Linked DNA regions of Homo sapiens: all the other regions are linked to region 2. Evidence: fine-mapped expression QTL. A gene starts in region 2. Each other region holds a variant in brackets. All regions are shown on one strand. Distances are from middle to middle. Region 1 has its middle 13 kb from the start of KRTCAP2. Region 2 holds the start of MUC1 (mucin 1, cell surface associated). Region 3 has its middle 17 kb from the start of EFNA3. Region 4 has its middle 8.2 kb from the start of KRTCAP2.

The links. PIP is the estimated chance that this variant, and not a neighbour inherited with it, causes the effect.
Region 1: its variant is fine-mapped to the expression of MUC1 in transverse colon (CEDAR, PIP 0.95).
Region 3: its variant is fine-mapped to the expression of MUC1 in whole blood (TOPMed, PIP 0.94).
Region 4: its variant is fine-mapped to the expression of MUC1 in whole blood (TOPMed, PIP above 0.99). The same link has a PIP of 0.9 or more in subcutaneous fat.

The regions. Positions count from the first base shown.
Region 1 is chr1:155,159,173-155,161,917 of GRCh38, forward strand. No RefSeq gene overlaps it. Among named protein-coding and RNA genes, the nearest start is that of KRTCAP2, 13 kb to the right of the region's middle. The variant G/GGT (reference allele first, on the strand shown) is at 1,418.
Region 2 is chr1:155,191,679-155,194,178 of GRCh38, forward strand. MUC1 (mucin 1, cell surface associated) reads right to left here and starts at 1,231. Exons shown (of 12, transcript NM_001371720.2): 1 at 1,108-1,231; 2 at 1-632. The coding sequence starts at 1,165.
Region 3 is chr1:155,094,815-155,097,559 of GRCh38, forward strand. No RefSeq gene overlaps it. Among named protein-coding and RNA genes, the nearest start is that of EFNA3, 17 kb to the left of the region's middle. The variant T/C (reference allele first, on the strand shown) is at 1,260.
Region 4 is chr1:155,163,703-155,166,447 of GRCh38, forward strand. No RefSeq gene overlaps it. Among named protein-coding and RNA genes, the nearest start is that of KRTCAP2, 8.2 kb to the right of the region's middle. The variant G/T (reference allele first, on the strand shown) is at 1,217.

The DNA.
Region 1 (2,745 bases), 32 kb before region 2:
ACAGGACAAAAGCACATGCAATTAACAAAAACACAGACAAACTTTTAAAAGGGGAGTAGTGGAGAAGGGGCTGGGTGAGTCAGGGTTTCCTAGAGAAGGTAAGCTACAAGAGACGAAGATGGGAAAATATGATAGCCTGAAGGTGGACAGACTCAGGAACAGGTCTGAGCAGCTGAGAAAAACATCTGGATCATTCTGAGGATTCAGCAATTTGGAGTTGATGCAGGGTAGAAGTTGAGTTTCAACAAAGGGCTCAAAGTACAAGAGTGGTGTGTTGCCAATGGGGTTCTTGGTTCTTCTTCTTTTTTTTTTTTTTTTGAGACAGAGTTTTGCTCTTGTTGCCCAGGCTGTAGTACAATGGCGCGATCTCGGCTCACCACAAACTCCACCTCCCAGGTTCAAGTGATTCTCCTGCCTCAGCCCCCCGAGTAGCTGGGATTATAGGCAAGTGCCAACACACCCAGCTAATTTTGTATTTTTAGTAGAGATGGGGTTTCTCCGTGTTGGTCAGTCTGGTCTTGATCTCCCAACCTCAGCTGATCTGCCCGCCTCAGCCTCCCAAAGTGCTGGGATTACAGACGTGAGCCACGGCACCTGGCCCTTGGTTCTTCTTTTAATAAACATTTGTTGAACACCTACTCTATGCCAAACAGCATTCTAGTGGACAAAATAGACAAATTCTCTGCCTTCAATGAACCTTATACTCTAGTGATGGGAGACAGACAAGACAAAAATAAACATTTAATATACCAACTAAACCTGCCCAGTGGCTCATACCTGTAATCCCAGCACTTTGGGAGCCCAAGGCAGGAGGATCACTTGAGGCCGGAGTTCAAGGTCAGCCTGGGCAACATAGACCTCATCTCTACTAAAAATAAAAATAACATATATTCACCAAGTAGTGAAAAGTACTATGAAGAAAAGTATAGCAAGGTAAGGGGCTAGAAGGTGACAGGCTGTACTGTGTCATATAGCACGATCAGAAAGGCCTGTCTGAGAAGGAGACATTTGCACAGAGACCTGAATGACATACAGAAGAGAGAAGTGTAGATATCTGCTGAGAAAGCGTTTCAGGCACAGGAACAGCAAGTGCAAAGGCCGCGAGGTGGAAACGTGCCTGGCACAGGGGACATGCAGGGTCTGGGGGCAGGATGGAGTGAGTGTGGGGAAGAGAGCAAGGAGGCGACATCAGAGAGGTGGCAGGAGCCAGATGGTGTGTTGTAACCATGCACTGTAGTCATGCTGGTTAAGCAACATGGTGGGCACAGATGGATCTGAATGTGAACTCCAATTCCGCCTTCATTTATCGGTTGTGTATAATCTTGAGCAGATTAGCCTTTCTTTCATTTAACCCCATTTCATTTTACTGAAACAGGGTGTATTAGTCAAGGGTTCTCCAGATGATCAGAACCAATAG[G/GGT]GTGTGTGTGTGTGTGTGTGTGTGTGTGTGTGTGATCCTGGTGCTGCCCCTCAGGAACTCTCTCTCTTTCCATGTGTATGTATATGGCAAGAGAAAGAGAGGGAGAGGCACAGTGGCTCACTCCTGTAATCTCAGCACTTTGGGAGGCCGAGGTGGGAGGATCACTTGAGCCCAGGAGTTTGAGACCAGCCTGGGTAACATAGCAAGACTCCGTCTCTACAAAAAAATAAAAAATAAAAAATTAGCTGGGCCTGGTGGTGCTTGCCTGTAGTCTCAGCTAGTCGGGAGGCTGAGATGAGAAGATCACTTGAGCTCAGAAGTGTGAGGCTGCATGACCTATAACAGTGCCACTGCATTCAAACCTAAGTGAGAGTGAGACCCCATCTCTGCCAAAAAAAAAAAAGGAATTGTTTCACACCATTATGGAGGCTGGTAAATCCAAGATCTGCAGGGTTGTGGGCAGACTGAAGACCCAGAGAAGAGTCAAGGTTCAGTTCAAGTCTCAATGCTACGTGCTTCTAAACTCCCTCTTGCTCAGGGAAGGTCAGTCGTTTGTTCTGTTTGAACCTTCAACTGACTGGATGAGACCCAATCACATCATGGATGGAGGGCAATCTGCTTTACCTAAACCCTACCAATTTAAATATTTAAATACTAATCTTTCACTCTCTCTCTCTCTTTTTTTTTTTTTTGAGACAGAGTCTTGCTCTGATGCCCAGGCTGGAGTGCAGTGACACAATCTCAGCTCGCTGCAACCTCCGCCTCCCCAGTTCAAGTGATTCTCCTGCCTCAGCCTCCCAAGTGGCTAGGATTACAGGCCTGCGACACCATGCCTGGCTAATTTTTTTTTTTTTTTTTTTGAGACGGAGTCTTGCTCTGTCACCCAGGCTGGAGTGCAGTGGTGCGGTCTTGGCTCATTGCAAGCTCCGCCTCCCAGGTTCATGCCATTCTCCTGCCTCAGCCTCCCGAGTAGCTGGAACTACAGGCACGTACCACCATGCCCAGCTAATTTTTTGTATTTTTAGTAGAGACGGGGTTTCACCATGTTAGCCAGGATGGTCTCGATCTCCTGACCTCGTGATACTCCCGCCTCGGCCTCTCAAAGTGCTGGGATTACGGGCATGAGCCACCACGCCCGGCCCATGCCTGGCTAATTTTTGTATTTTTAGTAGAGACAGGGTTTCACCATGTTGGCCAGGCTGGTCTCAAACTCCCGAATTCTGGTGATCCACCCGCCCACACCTCCCAAAGTGCTGGGATTATAGGCATGAGCCACCTCACTCAGCCTTAAATACTAATCTCATCCCAAAACACTGTCACTGAAATAT
Region 2 (2,500 bases):
GGCCGAGGTGACACCGTGGGCTGCGGGCGCGGTGGAGCCCGGGGCGGACCTGGTGTCCGGGGCCGAGGTGACACCGTGGGCTGGGGGGGCGGTGGAGCCCGGGGCGGGCCTGGTGTCCGGGGCCGAGGTGACACCGTGGGCTGGGGGGGCGGTGGAGCCCGGGGCCGGCCTGGTGTCCGGGGCCGAGGTGACACCGTGGGCTTGGGGGGCGGTGGAGCCCGGGGCCGGCCTGGTGTCCGGGGCCGAGGTGACACCGTGGGCTGGGGGGGCGGTGGAGCCCGGGGCTGGCTTGTTGTCCGGGGCTGAGGTGACATCGTGGGCTGGCGGGGTGGTGGAGCCCAGGGCTGGCCTGGTGACTGGGACCGAGGTGACATCCTGTCCCCAGGTGGCAGCTGAACCTGAAGCTGGTTCCGTGGCCGGGGCCAGAGTGACATCCTGTCCCTGAGTGGTGGAGGAGCCTGAACCGGGGCTGTGGCTGGAGAGTACGCTGCTGGTCATACTCACAGCATTCTTCTCAGTAGAGCTGGGCACTGAACTTCTCTGGGTAGCCGAAGTCTCCTTTTCTCCACCTGGGGTAGAGCTTGCATGACCAGAACCCGTAACAACTGTTGCGGGTTTAGGGGCTGTGGTAGCTGTAAGAAGTTAAAGTCATAGGGTTGGGTCTTTATGAAGGAAAAATAAGAGCAAGAAGAAAATATAAGCTCTGGCCACCAGAGAAATAATACCAGGAGGACTGGGGAGTGGGCAGCCTCAGTAACCCCTGGGTTGGCCGCCTCCTTCCCTGCAGCAGCCTCCTTCTCTCTGCCCATAGGCCTTGGCTCATGGCCCCTGCATTTCTTCCCCTCTTAAGCCTTCCCTCTCCCTACTCTCTTCCCCCTAGACTTCTCTACAGGACATTTGCTTGCCCCTGGTACCCACTCTCAGGGTTGGGGGCAACTCTTCTCAGCCTGTCCTTAGCCTCTCCCTCCTTCTGGCACAGACAGGGCAGCCTCTGTCTGCAATTCTTACCTTAACTTCATGGTGCCATCTGCCAGGGAGCAAAACCCACAGAAAGACCACGAAGACCACCTAAGCAGGGCAGCCCACTCCCCACCTCGTGCCCCTCACCTGTAAGCACTGTGAGGAGCAGCAGCAGGAAGAAAGGAGACTGGGTGCCCGGTGTCATGGTGGTGGTGAAATGGGTGGGGAGGGGGCAGAACAGATTCAGGCAGGCGCTGGCTGCTTGAGAGGTGGAGCGGGCACAGGCGCCTACCGCTTTATACCGGTCCCCCCACTCCCCGCCCGCCCGCCCTAGGCACAGCCGGAGCAGGTGACAGGTGACAAAACCCCGCCCCCTCCCCTACCTCCTACCTCTTCCTCCTCCTCCCCAACCATTCCTGGGTAGGGTACAAGGGCTCTAATCGCTCAACCCCCTGACTACCCGTTTGTTCTCCAGCTGGCCTCCCCCTTTCACCAACCACTCCCTGGCTCCGGGGGAGGGGGGAGGGGCAGTCTGGAACTTGGGGCCCCTGGGCTCTAGTTTTAGCCTCAGGGCAACAACTAACGTGGGGATGGGGAACAAAGCCAGCTAGGTCGAGGTCCTGTACAGCAAGGTCGGGAAGCCCACCCCTAGGTCTCCCACTCCACTTCCCCGCCCTCCCCGGGTCCACTGAAGCAGAGCGGGGCCGAGAAATAAGAGGGCTGGATAATGAGTGGACTAGGTGCTAGTTTTGGGCTCCCTCCCCCCACCACTTCCCGGAATAGCCCCACCCTTCTAACCGCTCCCTGTCCCGTTCCACACGCAGTTCTACCCTGAAACCCACAGTCCCCGCCCCAGCCGGACTTTCCAGCAGCCTGGGTTCCCTCCTTGGAGAAAGCCAAGGAGGGAGTGGGGGAAGAAATTTCCACTTAAGGGAGTAAACCTGGGCTCCGATGAACCCTAGGGTCCTTCCTTGCCACTCTCCACCACTGGCCAGGAGCTCCTCCCGCCCTCTAGTGGTCACCGGGAGCCTTGCGGGGCTGGGCCGCGCAAGCTGAGGGGCCGCTCGGACCGGGCGGAGAGGAGTAAGGGCAGCGCTGCCTAAGTGAGGCAGCGAGAGCCCGCGAGAGGGAAGCAGGGCCCGGGAGAGAAGGGTCACTGCCGTGGCCAGGGAGGGAGGAACGCACAGCATGGTGGACGGCTGGGAGCTTTAGGAGGGGGCACTCCGGGACGCGTGGTGGTGGCGTCTGGAGGAAATGGAGCTAAGCGGGTGGGGTCCTGAGGTATGTGGAAGGGGCACCGAGGTATGTGGGAGAGGACGTTGGAACGTGGGCGGGGGAGTTGGACACGTTCTGTGTGGGCCGTTATGTACTTAAGAGGCAGATCGGGCGTGGCACGGTGGCTCACGCCCGTAATCCCAACACTTTGGAAGGCCGAGGCGAGTGGATCACAAGGTCAGGGGTTCAAGACCAGCCTGGCCAAGATGGTGAAACCTCGTCTCTACTAAAAACTACAAAAATTAGCCGAGCGTGGTGGCGGGCG
Region 3 (2,745 bases), 97 kb before region 2:
CTCCATCAAGTAATATCACACCACTCAGCGCAAACACCTTCCTCCCATTCCCCACCTCTCCGCCTTTGTGCTATTGTCACCATGGATTTATTTCTACACATGCTATAAGCCCCACAATACATTATTAGATTTGCTCTAAACCCTCAAGTATCTTTTAAAGAGAATTTTAAAATCAGAAAAATATCTTTTCTATCTACCCACATATTTACCATTTCCAGCTCTCTTCATTCCTTTGTGTAGACGGAGATTTCCATCTGGTATCATTTTTCTTCTGCTTGAAGGACTTTTTAAAGCCGTTCTTCTAGTGCAGGTCTACTGATGATGAATTCTTTCAATTTTGGAATGTCTGAATGCATCTTTATTCCATCTTCCTATTTGAAAGATATCTCCACTGAATTCTAGGTTGACAGTTTTTATCTTTTCGTACTTTAAAGACATTACTCCACTGTCTTCAGGGTTGCATTGTTTCTGACGAGAAATCACTTCTATTTTTCCTTTTTACACAATGTGTTTTTTTCCTCTGGCAGCTCTTAAGATTTGTGTCTTTATCACTGGTGTTCAGCAGTGATTAAGGCAGATTATGATGTACCCTTGGTGTAGTTGTCTTCATATTTCTTCTGCTTAGGGTTTATTGAGCTTCTTCGACATAGGGATTTATAGTTTCCATCAAATTTGAAAATTATTGTTCCTTCAGATATTTTTTCTGTCATCTCTCCTGTGAATCTGTTAGACCCACGTTTCTGGTCTCCAAACAGGTATACAGGCTACTTGTTATTCCACAGCTCACTGATTTTCTGGATTTTGGTTTTGGAGGTTTTGTTTTTGTTTTTTGTTTTTTGTTTTTAAGTCTTTTTTTCCTCTCTGTGTTTCATCTTGGATAGTTTCTATTGCTAAGTCTTCAAAAACCTGTTTTCTACAGGGTCTAATCTGCTTTTATTTCCATCCAGTATACTTTTCATCTCAGATATTATACATTTCATCTTTAGAAGTTCAATTGAGGTCTTATTTTATATCTTCACACCTCTTTACATCGTGTTTATGTTTTTCCATATCTGTTTGAATATATGGATGGTATTTAATAATAGCTATTGGAGCTAAAGTCCTTGTCTACTAATTCTGTGACATTTCTGGGTCAGCTTTGTGTCATTATTTGCCTGTGTCTTTGCATGCCTGGTAATTATTGATTGGATGCCAGACATTGTATATTTTATGTTGTTTGGTGCTAGATTTTTTTGTATTCCTTTGAATATATTTGAGCC[T/C]CGTTCAGGGACTTAGTTAAGTTCCTTGGAAACAGATTGATCCTTTTAAGGTGTGCTTTTAGGTACCATTTGGCAAGAGGAGAATAGCCTTTGGTCTAAGGCTAATTTGCTCTCACCACTGAGGCAGTATCATCTGATGACTCTACTTGATGTCCCATGTATCAGTCAGTATCTAGTCAAGAGGCAGAAACCACACAGCAATTTGAACAGGGAAAGTTTAATGTAAAAAGAAAAAAAATTTTTTTTTGAGACAAGGTCTTGCTTTGTTACCCATGCCGGTATGCAGTGGTGCAATCATGGCTCACCATAGCTTCCACCTCCTGGGCTGAAGTGGTTCTCCAGCCTTAGCTTCCTGAGTAGCTGGGATCACAAGCGTGTGCTACCACACCTGGCTAATTTTTACATTTCTTTTGTAGAGACAGAGGGTCACCCTATGTTGCCTAGGCTGGTCTGGAACTCCTGGACTTAAGCAATCCTCCCACCTCAGCTTCCCAAAGTGCTGGAATCACAGGTGTGACCCACCACATGCAGTCTAATGTAAAAAGGTATTAACTTAACAAGGAATTGAGGTTAGAAGGGATTGGCTAGTAAGAAATAAACAGAACTCTAAATGAATACAGGAATAGGGGGCCAGATGCAGTGGCTCATGCCTGTAATCCCAGCACTTTAGGAGGCTGAGGCAGGTGGATCACCTGAGGTCAGGAGTTCAAGACCAGCCTGGGCAACATGGTGAAACCCTGTCTCTACAAAAATACAAAAATTAGCTGGGCATGATGGCGGGTGCCTGTAATCCCAGCTACTCAGGAGGCTGAGACAGGAGAATTGCTTGAACTGGGGAGGGCAGAGGTTGCATTGAGCCGAGATCCTGCCATTGCACTCCAGCCTGGGTGACAGAGCGAGACTCTGTCTCAAAAAAAAAAAAAAAAATCAGGAATAGCAGATACAAGAAGCGACTACTCTTCCTGGGTCTAAGGTGGAACACCCAAGAACAGCCCTCCCCATTCTGCCTGTTGTCCTATGTCTGGAATCACTGTTTCATATAGTCTGTCAGGTGTTTTAGTTGTTTAAAGCAGGTGGGGCCGGGTGCGGTGGCTCATGCCTGTAATCCCAGCACTTTGGGAGGCTGAGGTGGGTGGATCACTTGAGGTCAGGAGTTTGAGACCAGCCTGGCCAACATGGTGAAACCCTCTCTCTACTAAAAATACAAAAATTGGCCGGGCGCGGTGGCTCACGCCTGTAATTCCAGTGCTTTGGGAGGCCGAGGCGGGCGGATCACGAGGTCAGGAGATCGAGACCATCCTGGCTAACACAGTGAAACCCTGTCTCTATTAAAAATACAAAAAATTAGCCAGGCGCGGTGGCAGGCGCCTGTAGTCCCAGCTACTCGGGAGGCTGAGGCAGGAAAATGGCGTGAACCTGGGAGGTGGAGTTTGCAGTGAGCCAAGATCGTGCCACTGCACTCCAGCCTCGGCGATAGAGTGAGACT
Region 4 (2,745 bases), 28 kb before region 2:
TGGTGGTTTGCTACACAGATCATCCCATCACCCAGGTACTAAGCCCAGTATCCATCAGCTATTCTTCCTGATGCTCTCCCTCCCCTACCCCTATCCCTCTGAAAGACCCCAGTGGTGTGGTTCCCACCATGTGTCCGTGTGTTCTCATCGTTCAGCTCCCACTTATAAGTGAGAGCATGTGGTGTTTGGTTTTCTGTCCCTGTGTTAGTTTGCTGAGGATAATGACTTCCAACTCCATCCATGTCCCTGCAAAGGACATGATCTCATTCCTTTTTATGGCTGCATAGTATTCCATGGTGTATATGTACCATGGTGTATATAGTATTCCATGGCGTATATAAACATAGTATTCCATGGTGTATATGTACCTCCATGGTGTATATTTTCTTTATCCAGTCTATCATTGATGGGCATGTAGGTTGATTCCATGTCATTGTTATTGTGAATAGTGCTGCAATGAATATACACGTGCATGTATCTTTATAACAGAATGACTTCTATTCGTTTGGGTATATATACCCAGTAATGGGATTGCTGAGTCAAATAGTATTTCTGCCTCTGGGTCTTTGAAGAATAACCACACTGTCTTCCACAATGGTTGAACCAATTTTCACTCCCACCAACAGAGTAAAAACGTTCCTTTTTCTCCGCAACCTTGCCTGCATCTGTTGTTTTTTGACTTTTTTTTTTTTTTTTTTTTTTTTTTTTTAGACAGAGTCTCGCTCTGTCACCCAGGCTGGAGTGCAGTGGCACGACCTCAGCTCACTGCAACCTCTGCCTCCTGAGTTCAAGCGATTCTCCTGCCTCAGCCTCCCGAGTAGCTGGGATTACAGGCGCACACCACCATGCCTGGCTAATTTTTTATTTTTAGTAGAGACAGGGTTTCACCATGTTGGTCAAGCTAATCTGGAACTCCTGACCTCAAGACATCCACCCGCCTTGGCCTCCCAAAGTGCTGGGATTACAGGCGTGACCCACTATGCCCGGACGTTTTTTGACTTTTTAATAGCCATTCTGAGTGGCAAGAGATGGTGTCATTGTGGTTTTGATTTGCATTTTTCTAATGATCAGTGATGTTAAGCTTTTTTTCATATGTTTTTTGGTCACATGTATGTCTTCTTTTGAGAAGTGTCTGTTCATGTCTTTTGCCCACTTTTGGAGGCTTTTTTTTTTTTTTTTGAGACAGAGTCTGGCTCTGTCATCCAGGCTGGAGTGC[G/T]GTGGCTCAATCTCGACTCACTGCAACCTCCACCTCCCGAGTTCAAGCGATTCTCCTGCCTCGGCCTCCTGAGTAGCTGGGATTACAGGCACGCACCACCACGCCTGGCTAATTTTTGTATTTTCAGTAGAGATAGGGTTTCACCATGTTGGTCAGGCTGGTCTCGAACTCCTGACCTCGTGATCCGCCTGCCTCAGCCTCCCCAAGTGCTGGGATTGCAGGCGTGAGACACCAAGCCCAGCCCCTTTGCCCATTTTTTAATAGGGTTGTTTGTTTTTTTCTTGTAAATTTGTTTAAGTTCCTGTCACAAGACTTTATAAAATAGGACCTGCAGTACCCTGTAAAGGAAAATTTTCTATAAATTCTGTAATGATCTTGTGGATAGCCAGGTGCAGTGGCTCACACCTGTAATCCCAGCACTTTGGGAGGCCGAGATGGGCTGATCACCTGAGGTCAGGAGTTCGAGACCAGCCTGGCCAACATGGTGAAACTCCATCTCTACTAAAAATGCAACAAAATTAGCCAGGCGTGGTGGCGCATGCCTATAATCCCAGCTACTTGGGAGACTTAGGCAGGAGAATCACTTGAACCCAGGAGGCAGATGAAGGTTGCGGTGAGCCGAGATAGTGCCATTGCACTCCAGCCTGGGCAACAAAAGCAAAACTCCGTCTCAAAAAAAATAAAAACAAAAATAAATCTTGTGGATAGCATAATTGTATTGTAATTTTGTGTGAAAAAGTGTTAATCTGGCTGGGTGCAGTGGCTCCCGCCTATAATCCCAGCACTTTGGGAGGCCTAGACAGGAAGATTACTTGGGGCCAGGAGTTTGAGACCAGCCTGGGAAAAACGCTCTTCCAAAAAAAAAATGTGTTAATTTATCAAACGTAAACGTGCCTGTTTTTCTCATTTCCAAGTGTATCTGAAACCTCCACAGACAGTAGGGACCTAGACTTCTCTCCATCTTTCAGAAGTCGTGTCTCCAAGGGAGCAGTTGCTGAGATCTGTGGGTCGTTTCCCACCCTGCCCCTGGCCCCCTGCAGAGGCTGGGGTGGGAACAGCTGGCTCTTCAAACCCTGCCCAAAGCTCTGAACTCTGCCTCCTGCCAGTGGTCAGGCCTCCTCCACCTGACCCTTCACCCGAGGTGATGGGATGCCTAACCATAAGGCCAGCTGGGGGGCTTCTCTCTCTGCCTCTGCAGGAACTCAACCAAATAGCATTTACAGAGCAACCTCTATGTGGCCAGCTGGCTTTCAGCCCTGGGGGTGGGAGGTGCGGGAGTGGCTTTGGGAACCTGATCCCGATCTCGGCACTGCCCCCTGAGAAACTTCCAGGCTGCTGGGAGAAAAGCAAAGAAAGGTACCTAAAGCAGAGCTATTAAGTGCCCCAACTGTGCCTATGTGAGAGTCCCACCATTGTTTGCTTGGGAGGCAGATCCTAGTAAGCCTAAGTCAAGGAGGAGTGCGCACAGGGCAGGCCAGCCCGGAGGTCCCTGAGGGCAGGGCCTCCAGGCTTCCCATTCTTTCGCAGTT